3 linked regions of the Homo sapiens genome follow. The protein of the gene in region 3 interacts with the protein of the main gene of each other region in a pairwise test. Each region holds a gene or a part of one and is shown on either strand. Other genes may lie near its edges.

Region 1 (3,748 bases), on a different chromosome or scaffold from region 3:
CTCATTATCAAGTTCAAAGTAATGCTGTCATTTTTTCTCAGTAACGATGCTCTTATCTCCAAGATGACAAAGCTGACGGGAACAAGATCAGGAAGCCGAGTCTGGGGGTTGGGAGTTGAACCCTACATCTCCTGACTCCCAGACCCCTTTTCTGGTGCCTCTTTGTCACTCAAGCTGTCAAACACCTTTGCACGCAGCAGTGTCCCTTGGCTGGGTGTGGTGGCTCATGCCTGTAATCCCAGCACTTCGGGAGGTCAAGGTGGGAGGATCGCTTGAGTCCAGAAGTTTGAGACAAGCATGGGCAAACATGGCAAGATCTCGTCTCTAAAAAAGAATACAAAAATTAACCGATGCATGGTGGCATGTACCTATGGTCCCAGCTATTTGGGAGGCTGAAGTGTGAGGATCACTCGAGACACTGCATGCCAGACTGGGCAATAGAGCGAGACCCTGTCTCAAAAAAAAAGTGTCCCTCGTGGGTTTGGTTGCATGAGAATGCTTGGTGTTCAATTCTTGAGGTTATTAGAAGATTGAACTTTGAAATCATCCCGCAACCTTGAACCAAAAGGTGAAATTGTCCACTTTGATAGATGACAACGGAAGGATCCTTTGGTTCAATGGACAGCTTGTAAATATAAAACAGTTGCTGGAAAATTATATTAGAGATGAGCTATCTCCTCCATTACAATGTTTGCTTTTCTTTAATGCGATTGAGTTCCAACAGAAAGGCTTGGGAGGGGCCACAAGCAATGCTTCAGGAGTTACTGGAAGAGAGATATGGGGAGTGAGAGAGGAGATCCATCGATGTGGAGCAGGGGCCAGGGGAGGCCTTCTGCCCAGGAGGCCTGTGCTGAGGACCCTGGCTGTGCCCAAGGGAAACTGAATTCAGAGCTCCTCCTGCATCATAAATCCAGGACAGCTGGCAGCTCTCCAAGGAAGACTGGCGCTAAACTCCAAGGGCATCAGCCGCCAGATTGGCCAACCCCTACAATGCCCTTTGAGAGCTGAGCCCCAGGTGTGTTGAATCGGGATTCCGTTCCAACCTCATGACCACATTCATTTACAAGCCCTGCATTTTGTTAATTTAAAAATGCACTCACCAGGAGGGAAGGAGGAGAGGCTCCATTAAATATAAGACAGCTGAAAGGCTGGAATTCTTCTGACATGCATGTCTTAGGAAGGAGAAGGCCTGACCTTGTTCTTTTTTTTTTTGAGACAGGGTCTCACTCTGTCACCCAGACTGGAGTGCAGTGGTGCAATAATAACTCACTGCAGCCTCTACCTACTGGGCTCAAGTGACGTGACCTCCCACCTCAGCCTCCCCAGTAGCTGGAACTACAGGCACATGCCACCATGCCTGGGTCGCTATGTTATCGGGGCTGGTCTCCAACTTTTGTTCTCCAGCGATCCTCCCACCTCAGCCTCTCAAAGTATTGGAATACAGGTGTGAGCCACCGAGCCTGGCCAGGCCTGACTTCTGAATGCATTCGTTTCTTGATCTTTTACCCCGAGTGCACGTGCAAGTTGCACCCCTGGCCACTGGGTTTTGCAGAGTGTGGCGTTCCAGTGTCCGGGGCCCCACGCCCGTCCGCAGGCTACTGGAATGCTGAGGGCGAGGAGGCTTCGCTCCACGCACACCGGATCGGCCTGCACTTCAGGGGCCAGGTCTACAGCCTTCCCCAGCGCAGACGCCGCCGGCCCGGCCGGTTCCCGAGGGCGGGGCTGCGCGGCCTCACGCCCCGCCCACCGCGGGCAGAGGCGGGGCATGGGTCACGTGACGGCACGCCGACCAGCGAGGCCCCGCCCGGCGGGAGGAGGCCCGGCCGCGACCCGGGCCGCGCGCTGAGGAGCCGCCCGGTCGCCTGCGCGCTCCCTCCGGCGGCGTCCCCAGCCCGCGGCCCCTCTGCTGCCGGCCCCCGGCTCGCCGGCTGCGGGAGTGGCCTCAAGATGGATGAAGACGGCGGCGGCGAGGGTGGTGGCGGTGAGTGTCGGAGGTGTGGTGGGCTCGCCGGCGGCCTGGGGTCGGGGGCCGGGGGCTGGGGGTCGAGGGCGCGGCGCTGGGCCGGGGTTCGCCGGAGGAGACGGGGTCGGGGGCAGCGGCAGCGGCGTCCGCTGGAGGCCTGAGGCACGCCGGGCCAGGGCCGAGGCTGGGTCTCCGGGGGCCGAGGGAGGGGGCGGGCCGGGGTCGCCGTTCGGCGCTGGCGAGGGTCTGGGTACCAGGCCGGGGCTGCCGCGGGCTGGGGTCGCCCCGGAGTCTCGGGCCGGGGTTTGGGTGTCGCTCCTCTGGGGCGGGGGACCTTGCGGGGCGACCTTCCCCGCATCTTGTCGCCAAGGGCGTTCATGCCCTCCGGAGCCCGGCGTTTCGGACGCCCCCTTTCAGCTCAGGTGGGCGGAAGCGGCTGAGCCGGTGGGAAACCGGGAGGGGAAAGTTTTGCACTGGAGGCTCCTCGAGTGTACAGGACGGGAGGGCAGGGGAAACGGTTGGAAAGCGTGACAGTCTGCTTGGCTTTGGGTCAGAAACGGTCGCTGGATTTGCTCGAACGGGGAGGGGGCCAGCTGGAGTTCAGTTCAGGGTAGACGTTTTAGGAAACGGCAGACGCGACAGATTGAGCAAAAAACTCCGTGGAGCCGAGGGTGGGAGACACGAGCTGCACCCAGCACAGAGGCAAGACCGGAGAGCCAGGTGTGCCCGGAGCCAGGTGTGCTCCCGAGTGGGTCGGGTCGATGCGCGTCGTGGCCCAGGTGGTCTGTGTCTGACGTTCGGTTTCCTCTTGCTGGAGGAATCGTGTTTGTTGGAAATTATTTAGTGGAATACAAATGACTGCTGGGTCATGCTGGGAATTAGATTTTAAAAACAGAGGAACGTGCCTCTGTATGGAGTGGGTGTTCGCTTTGGAAAGCAAAGGGTTAATGCCCGTGTTTTTACAGGAACAGCCGAAGTTGAGGTTCTCTAGACTTTTTTTTTTTTTCCTGAAGATCTCCTTTGAGCTGACAGAGAAATCATCAGAATCATCAGAACCCCATGTAATAAGGGAGCAGTTTAGAGAAATCTTAATTACAGGCTGCCGGTGCAGCTGCCTGTAAGAATCAGCAGTATTGAATGCTTCAGGATGAAGTGGTTCATCATCAAGGTGCCTTCCAGAATTCAAGTGCTGCTCAGAGGGAGATGTTTTTTTGCTGAAAGACGCGATGCAGCCAGGATGGTGGGAAGTTGGCACCCGTCATGGCATTTGGCGAGTTCAGTTCTTATAGTTGAAGCTAGGGGTAGCACTGTGGCACCGAGTGGGTGTGTTGATGGGAGCGCTGTGGAACGAAGGCGCCCAGTTGCGAACCCTCCTACAGTCAGGCTGTCTGGAGCCATGAGATCCTAAGGAATGGGTTCCCGGTGGATGTCGTGTTTCCTGCCTGTCACAATTTGGGCATAGCTGTTTTCCCTTGTTAGAAAAGAAAGACAACTGTAATATGCAGACGTTGGACATTAGCGTCAAGGCAGCTAGCTGGCTTGGCAGTTTTGTTTGTAAGGTGCTTTGGGCTCTGTGAGTAAAGAAATGTAGACTTGAAGATTAAAGCAGGAATAAAGAGGAAAAGAGGAGGCTTTAATGTGCTCCAGCAATTTGCAGGTCTTGAGTACTATAACAAAGGATGATATGAAGTATCAAAAGTCTTAAAATTGTCCTTGGGTTGTTAGTATCTCTTCTGGGAATATATCACAGGGAAGCAACCTTGAAATAAACCCCTCACGTATAAA
Region 2 (3,748 bases), on a different chromosome or scaffold from region 3:
TAAGCTCATAATTTAAAAATGTATGCAGATTAATAGGCTTAAATTGCCAGGACTTTAGATAGACATTACCACTTCCAGGTTAATACTTTTAGCGGTTTTTATGCCTTCAATGGTTTGAAGCCCTCAACCTTAGTTGAAAACTTAAAAATGGCATTGAATGGCTGCTGCAATAAGGACACATGAATTTTGGCTTAAGTGGACTAGGAGGACTAAATCTTGCTTAGGCTTTTAAAAAATGCCCACCCACTGGGTCTAGGGATTGAGGTTATTTTCCTGAATTATGGCTAATTATGGATTACAATTCAAGGTTAAAGATACACATATAGTATTCTCAGGTTATTCATATGATAGCATTTTTTAAGAGCCAAAGTCTCAGTCACCCAGGCTGGAGTGCAGTGGCTTGATAATGGTTCGCTACAGCCTCCAACTTCTATGTTAAAGTGATCCTCCTACCTCAGCCTTTCAAAGTGTTGGGATTATAGGCACGTACCTATGGCCCCAAAGCACTTTAACAAATGAGTAACAGACACAGTTAAGGTAGAACCTAGCATTTTATTTAGATCTTCATTAAACTGTTGGAATTGAGAACCAGACATACGTAATAAACCTCCAAAAATAGATCCTGAAAGGCACTTTCTGCTTAGGGCAAGCAGTCATGGAATAAGCATGTAAACAAGCTGGCTTCTCTGTACCACACCAGCCAAGTCAGCTTTCTCCATGGCCAGCCGCACCAGCTCTGCCCTCCCTTCTGTTAACACCAGCCAGACCCCCTGTAGGTCTAACCCAAGGTTTTTCTGTAGGACACCTTGGCCTACCTGGGAATGCTGGAAACATGTTGTTAAAGGAATCATGGTGTTGAGAGAAAAAAAAAAAATCTTTTAAAAGCTGCCATCTGAGGTGATGGCTTCTCTGTACTTACGCCATACCCCAGAATACAATAAATAAGCAATTAGAAAACGTTCAAGTATGAAGGGATTTCCTCCTCCCCGCCAAAAGCACTGCTCTCTGAAGGAAGCTGGTTTCTCTGTAGCTACACCAGCTGTTCAGAAAGCTCATTGGACCTGGTTTTGAAAATAAAACAAAGTTAAAACCCTGGGAGGAGTTATTGTGCAGTGTGGAGTACTCAGGCTTTCTTATAAAGAAAAAAAAAAGTTATCTGGTACCAAAGTGTGCAACCTACAGACCCTCAGGTACTGCCCTGTGACTTCTCTGTATGACATCACAAGGCTGCCAAGTGCCTGTTTTTCTAGAACTAGGAGTTGGTGAGGTTTGGCTAGTGCTGAAACCATGCATAGGATTGGTTTACTAAATTAAAACCTTATTACGTACGTCCTCCAAAAGACAGCTGAAAGTGGAGAGATTTTGATTTGGTGCTGTTAGAGGTGGCAATTAAGAGCATAAGCACCAGGGAGATGGTTTAATGGTAACTGCCTTTTTTGATGTCAGGCTGGAGCTCCAACTGGGAACTTGCGTTACATGCAAGATTGATTGGATAGGGAACACTCCCTGACAAAGAGCTACATAATTAGAAATGGATCAAGTTACAGGGAGGATAAGGGGAAGGCTTCACATTCATAATAGAGCTCAAGACATTACAAATTCATGCTGACAGGGCTGTGGCATTGCCAGACAGAGGCTATAAGTGGAACTACAAGTACTTTACGTGCACATCACAAGGACATTTTCAGCATCTGGTGGGGAAAGTCAATGCAATTATGACTTTGGAGCGTTGGGTGATAGGGCACAAAGGTTCAATTTCAAAGCATTATTTACTACAGTGTTGTTTCTAGGCAGTTACATGGATCACCTATGCTCACTAAATTCATTATAATGGTGAACAAAACACCTAGGGACAGAATAGCAAGCCCAACTTACAGTCCCCCACAAAAGCTAAAATTCATGTCATTGACTAGAGTGACTGCAACTGGTCAGGAGCTGAAAGAGGACAGGAAAATTTAGGAAGGAGGGCCCTTTCCCTCAGAGCTTGAAGGCTTCTCTGTAGCCTACGCCAACAAGTCTGGGGAAAAAAGGCTAACACTTTCAATATTTAAGCTTTTTGGGCACTTCCCATGGGAAGCTGTCCCTACCAAAGTGGCCATAGGCTGCAGTCCTCTGATAAATTGGCTTCTTCAGATCCAGATCCCTGGAATATACAAGTCCGTAACTTAATATGTAGCATTAAATTAAAATAAAGCAAAACAATCAGCAAGACTCATTTTCAAGAGCTCTGGCAAATGAGTTCTCTGGGATATGCTAGGAAAAAAATTTGTGGCAAAAGTGTTACTTCCCTGGTGTCCAAACTCCTTGCACAGTCCTTATTAGTAACTATAGTTGTTTTTCCGTCCCTGGCTCAACAAATACGAAAACTTGTCATTATTCTGAGAAATTTCAATTGTCAAAAAGCTCACCTGAGATCACACAATACTTACCAAGGTCCCGCCGCCCACACCCTACCATGGTTTTTACATTGCAACAAACCTTGAGCAACCCACTTTATCTCTATTTTCTTAACACCCTTAAGTAGAAGAGCACAAAGCTCAAATATCAAATCTGGAACATTCTCTAGAGTGGTTAGCCTAAGCCATGGAGCACCGTAATTTTAAATTTCTCAAATAACTAAGTCTTCACTAAGGCAGCAGTTCAAAACTGTTCCAGGAATTAAAATATATTCCCATTTGAGGAGTCTTCCTTCACACCTTCACCTCCTCAGCCTTAAGTATATACACACACACCCAACACCCTCAATACTTGACTAGCAACAGGCTTTACCATCTTTACCTGACAATGACCCCAGGGCGGAGATCGAAATTCTTCTTCACAATCTCTAATAGCTCTCTCTCACTCTTCTGAGAGGTACCATAATGGAAAATGGAGATAGATAATGGATGAGAAACTCCAATAGCATAAGAGACCTAAAAGGATTCAAATGTCGTAAGAATCAGTGATTGCAAAGACCCATATACTTGTATAATACGTTGGTATAAAACAAGTAGTTAAGTAGATTACTACTAAATACCCTCCCACTTACATGACTTTTAATCGTTCGTTATATAAAGAGTGTATACCTGAACAAGAACCCTCCGGCACAGACCTCCTTTAACAAGGGATTTTGCCACCCAACGAGCAGCATAAGCAGCTGAACGGTCGACCTTGGTATAATCCTTTCCTGAAAAGGCACCTCCTCCATGAGCACCCCAACCGCCATAAGTGTCCACAATGATTTTGCGTCCAGTCAAACCAGCATCACCCTGAAATTACAGGATTTAAGTTACTTTACGCCTAGTGCTTTCCAAGTGGATTAGGTTGCCTATTCTGAATTCATTCAGCAAATATCCTCCGATGATTCACATGTAGGTTTCAGAAAGCCTGAAAAAAATGTAGTAGCCAAAATTTTAAGTAACCATCAAAAATCCAGAAAAATGCAACAAAATGACATTACCTGAGGCCCACCAATAACAAATCTGCCACTTGGCTGTAGGTGGTAGATTGTATCCTCATCAAGGTATTTCGCAGGCACAACTGCTTTGATGACTTTCTCCTTTAGGGCATCCCTCATTTCATCAAGACAAACCTCTTCATCATGCTGAACAGATATAACAATTGTGTGGACTCTGATGGGAAGCACAGCACCTCGATCCTGCATATACTGCACAGTAACCTTGAAGGCAACACAGGTCATCAGAACATCACACCAAACAATAACTTTGTATTTGTTTCTCTACCTGAAGTTACAATATAGGAAAACAAA
Region 3 (3,748 bases):
TGCAACTTCTGCCCCGCCCCGGGGTTCAAGCGATTCTCCTGCCTCAGCCTCCCAAGTAGCTAGGACTACAGGAGTGTGCTACCACACCCAGCTAATTTTTGTATTTTTAGAAGAGATGGGGTTTCACTATGTTGGCCAGGATGGTCTTGAACTTCTGATCTCATGATCCACCCACCTTGGCGTCCCAAAGTGCTGGGATTACAGGTGTGAGCCACTGCACCCAGCCAGGAAACTTTTTAATTGAATCTTCACACACTTAAGTATTAAGGCATCTCTATTGAGACAGACTTCTATTAAGTAGCTTGCCTACTCAGGGTCACAGAAATGGGGCTGAATTTAAAACTTTTGAGGAAAAATACAGCAAATTTTTTTCCACTCTACCTCAAGGCCCAAGTGTAAATACTGTTCCTACCAGGTTTGGATCCATGCTTTGATTCCTAGCCCTGTGACCTTGGGCAAGTTTCTAATGCTCTGTGCCTCAATTTTCTCATCTGTAAAGTGAAGAAAATAGAACCAACTTCATGGCATTGTTTTGAAGAGTTAATTCATGTAAGGCACAAGCGTGTTGGGCAGACGATAGCTCTCCTTGCTGGCCACTGTTAACAGTTTTGTGAACTTTTTTCTTTTTTTTTTTTTTGAGCCAGAGTCTCGCTCTGTCACCCAGCTGGAGTGCAGTGGCACGATCTCGGCTCACTGCAAGCTCCGCCTCCCGGGTTCAAGCGATTCCCCCGTCTCAGCCTCCCGAGTAGCTGGGACTACAGGCGCATGCCACCACGCCCGGCTAATTTTTGTATTTTTAGTAGAGACAGGGTTTCCCCATGTTGGTCAGGCTGGTCTCAAACTCCTGACCTCAAGTGATTCACCGCCTCAGCCTCCCAAAGTGCTGGGATTACAGGCGTGAGCCACTGCACCCAGCCTTTTTTTTTTTTTTTTTTTTTTTTTTAAGAGACAAGATTCACTGTGTTGCCCAGGCTGGCCTCGAACTCCTGGGCTCAAGCAGTCCTCCTGCCTCAACCTGCTGGAACTATAGGCACATGTTACCAGTGGGCCCAGCTGCTGGGATTGGCACTTTTTTTTTTTTTTTAGTCAGAATCTCACTCTGTTGCCCAGGCTGGAGTGCAGTGGTGTGATCCGGCCCGGCTAATTTTTTGTATTTTAGTAGGGACAGGGTTTCACCATGGTGGCCAGGATGGTCTCGTGATCCACCCGCCTGGACCTCCCAAAGTGCTGGGATTACAAGGCATGAGCCACTGCGCCTGGCAGTTTTGTGAACTTGAACTGTGGACTTTATCTGTCCTGATTGTGTTTCTCATTCATTCAGCAATTATTATTTTTTGAGATGGAGTTTCGCTCTTGTCACTCAGGCTGGAGTGCAACAGCGCGATCTTGGCTCAATGCAACCTCTGCCTCCCAGGTTCCAGCTATTCTCCTGCCTCGGCCTCCCAAGTAGCTGGGATTACAGGAATACACCACCACACCCGGATAATTTTTGTATTTTTTTAGTAAAGACGGGGTTTCACCACGTTGGCCAGGCTGGTGTCTAACTTGGGATCTCAGGTGATCTGCCCACCTGGGCCTCCCAAAGTGCTGGGATTACAGGTGTGAGCCACCGCACCCGGCAGTTTTGTGAACTTGAACTATGGGCGTTATCTGTCCTGACTGTGTTTCTCATTCATTCAGCAATTATTGTTTTATTTATTTTTTGAGATGGAGTTTCACTCTTGTCACCCAGGCTGGAGTGCAATGGCACCATCTCAGCTCAATGCAACCTCTGCCTCCGGGTTCCAGCTATTCTCCTGCCTCGGCCTCCCAAGTAGCTGGGATTACAGGAATGCACCTCCACGCCCGGCTAATTTTTGTATTTTTTTAGTAAAGGTGGGGTTTCACCATGTTGGCCAGGCTGGTCTCTAACTCCTGACCTCAGGTGATCTGCCCGCCTGGGCCTCCCAGAATGCTGGGATTACAGGTGTGAGCCGCCGCACCCAGCTCATTCAGCAATTATTTTATCAATGTTCAATGTGCCCAGCATTATTCTAGGCTCTAGGGAAATAATCCATTGACAAAGCAGGGTCTACCAATGGGCTTGTCGGAGATTGCTGGGAATGGTTGATGGGGGCCAGTTTGCAGTTGGGGTGAGGTGGCTTTCCTTGAGGCAGCCTGGCTGAGTGAAGTCGACTTTGCTGACCAAGAAGGCTCCTCCCAGGGGTGGGGAAGCCTCGGCAGGGGGCGGCATGTGAGCGCCAGAAGGCAGGGATTTCACGGAAATGAAAGTGGAAGCAAACAGCCTGCGAGCAGAGCCTCCTGAGGTGTATTTCGGGTCTTGCTGGGGCTGAGAGAGACCACAGCCCTTTGGGGGGTACAAACAAGAGTTCAGTTGCTGTGAATTCTGCCACTGTGCCCAGCTCTGAAGCCTCAGCTCTTGCCAAACAGACCCGAGACCCATGTCAGCCCCACTGGATGCCGTAAGTGAGGAGGAGGGAGTTGGGAAGTGGGGAAACAGGAGTAATCCTCTTGGCTAGGAACCTGCAGATATCTCAGGGCCTGGCAGCCAAGCCTCACCCTGCCCATCTCAGACCTGCTGAAGGGCTGGGGAGAAACACAGGGCTGGGGTTGCCTCTGCAAGAGTTGGTTCCCTAACCTATTGCCTCAGACAGGAGGAGCTCATTAAATCCTGTGTGTGTACACTTCTCTGGAGAGAGAATCTGTAGTTTCCATCAGATACTCAGCGGGTTCTGTGACCCAAATAACAATTGTTCTAGGCCGGGCGTGGTGTCTCACGCCTGTCATCCTAGCACTTTGGGAGGCCTTGGCAATACAGTGAAAATCCGTCTCTACTAAAATACAAAAAATTAGCTGTGTGTGGTGGTGTGCGCCTGTAATCCCAGCTACTTGGGAGGCTGAGACAGGAGAATCACTTGAACCTGGGAGGCGGAGGTTGCAGTGAGCCGAGATTGCATCACTGCACTCCAGCCTGGGTGACACAGCGAGACTCTGTCTAAAAAAAAAAAAAAAAAAATTAAACTAAAGGAATTAGGCTGGGTGTGTTGGCTCACACCTGTAATCCCAGCCAGCACTTTGGGAGGCTGAGGCGTGTGGATCACTTGAGGTTAGGAGTTCGAGACCAGCCTGGCCAACATAGCAAAACCCCATCTCTACTAAAAACACAAAAATTAGCCAGGCATGGTGGCACACACCTGTAATCCCAGCTACTAGGGAGACTGAGGCGGGAGAATTGCTTGAACCTGGGAGGCAGAGGTTGCAGTGAGCCGAGATTGTACCACTATGCTCCACTCTGGGCAACAGAGGGAGACTGTCTCTCACACACACACACACACAAAATTTATATATATATATATATATATATATACTATAAGAATTATACTTTAAGAATCACACTAGGTAATCCATAGATTAACACGGTAAAAACTTATCCCACTGCTTAGCACCTACAGAGCATTCAATATGTGTTTCTTCTTAATATTATTATTGCCAACCTTTTCAGAACCCCAGTTCCCCAAGGACAATCCCTTTTTTTTTTTTTTTTTTGAGACGGAGTCTCACTCTGTCTCCTAGGCTGGAGTACAGTGGCATGATCTCGGCTCACTGCAACCTCTGCCTCCCGGGTTCAAGCGATTCTCCTGCCTCAGCCTCCCAAGTAACTGGGAGTACAGGCACGTTCCACCATGCCTGGCTAATTTTTTGTATTTTTAGTAGAAATGGAGTTTCACCGTGTTAGCCGGGATGGTCT

The links.
Region 1: the proteins of IFI35 (region 3) and CYTH3 interact in binary tests that used the Homo sapiens proteins (3 or more experiments, as listed by UniProt).
Region 2: the proteins of IFI35 (region 3) and MAT2A interact in binary tests that used the Homo sapiens proteins (3 or more experiments, as listed by UniProt).

What each region holds. Positions count from the first base shown.
Region 1 is NC_000007.14:6,270,707-6,274,454, reverse strand, and holds the start of CYTH3 (cytohesin-3), read left to right. Parts: upstream 1-1,830; 5' UTR 1,831-1,947; coding exon 1,948-1,981; intron 1,982-3,748. UniProt on the Homo sapiens protein: Promotes guanine-nucleotide exchange on ARF1 and ARF6. Promotes the activation of ARF factors through replacement of GDP with GTP. Plays a role in the epithelial polarization.
Region 2 is NC_000002.12:85,542,065-85,545,812, reverse strand, and holds the end of MAT2A (S-adenosylmethionine synthase), read right to left. Parts: intron 3,659-3,748; coding exon 3,440-3,658; intron 3,249-3,439; coding exon 3,066-3,248; intron 2,913-3,065; coding exon 2,779-2,912; intron 2,144-2,778; coding exon 2,041-2,143; 3' UTR 532-2,040; downstream 1-531. UniProt on the Homo sapiens protein: Catalyzes the formation of S-adenosylmethionine from methionine and ATP. The reaction comprises two steps that are both catalyzed by the same enzyme: formation of S-adenosylmethionine (AdoMet) and triphosphate, and subsequent hydrolysis of the triphosphate.
Region 3 is NC_000017.11:43,004,507-43,008,254, forward strand, and holds the start of IFI35 (interferon-induced 35 kDa protein), read left to right. Parts: upstream 1-2,277; 5' UTR 2,278-2,441; coding exon 2,442-2,462; intron 2,463-3,748. UniProt on the Homo sapiens protein: Acts as a signaling pathway regulator involved in innate immune system response.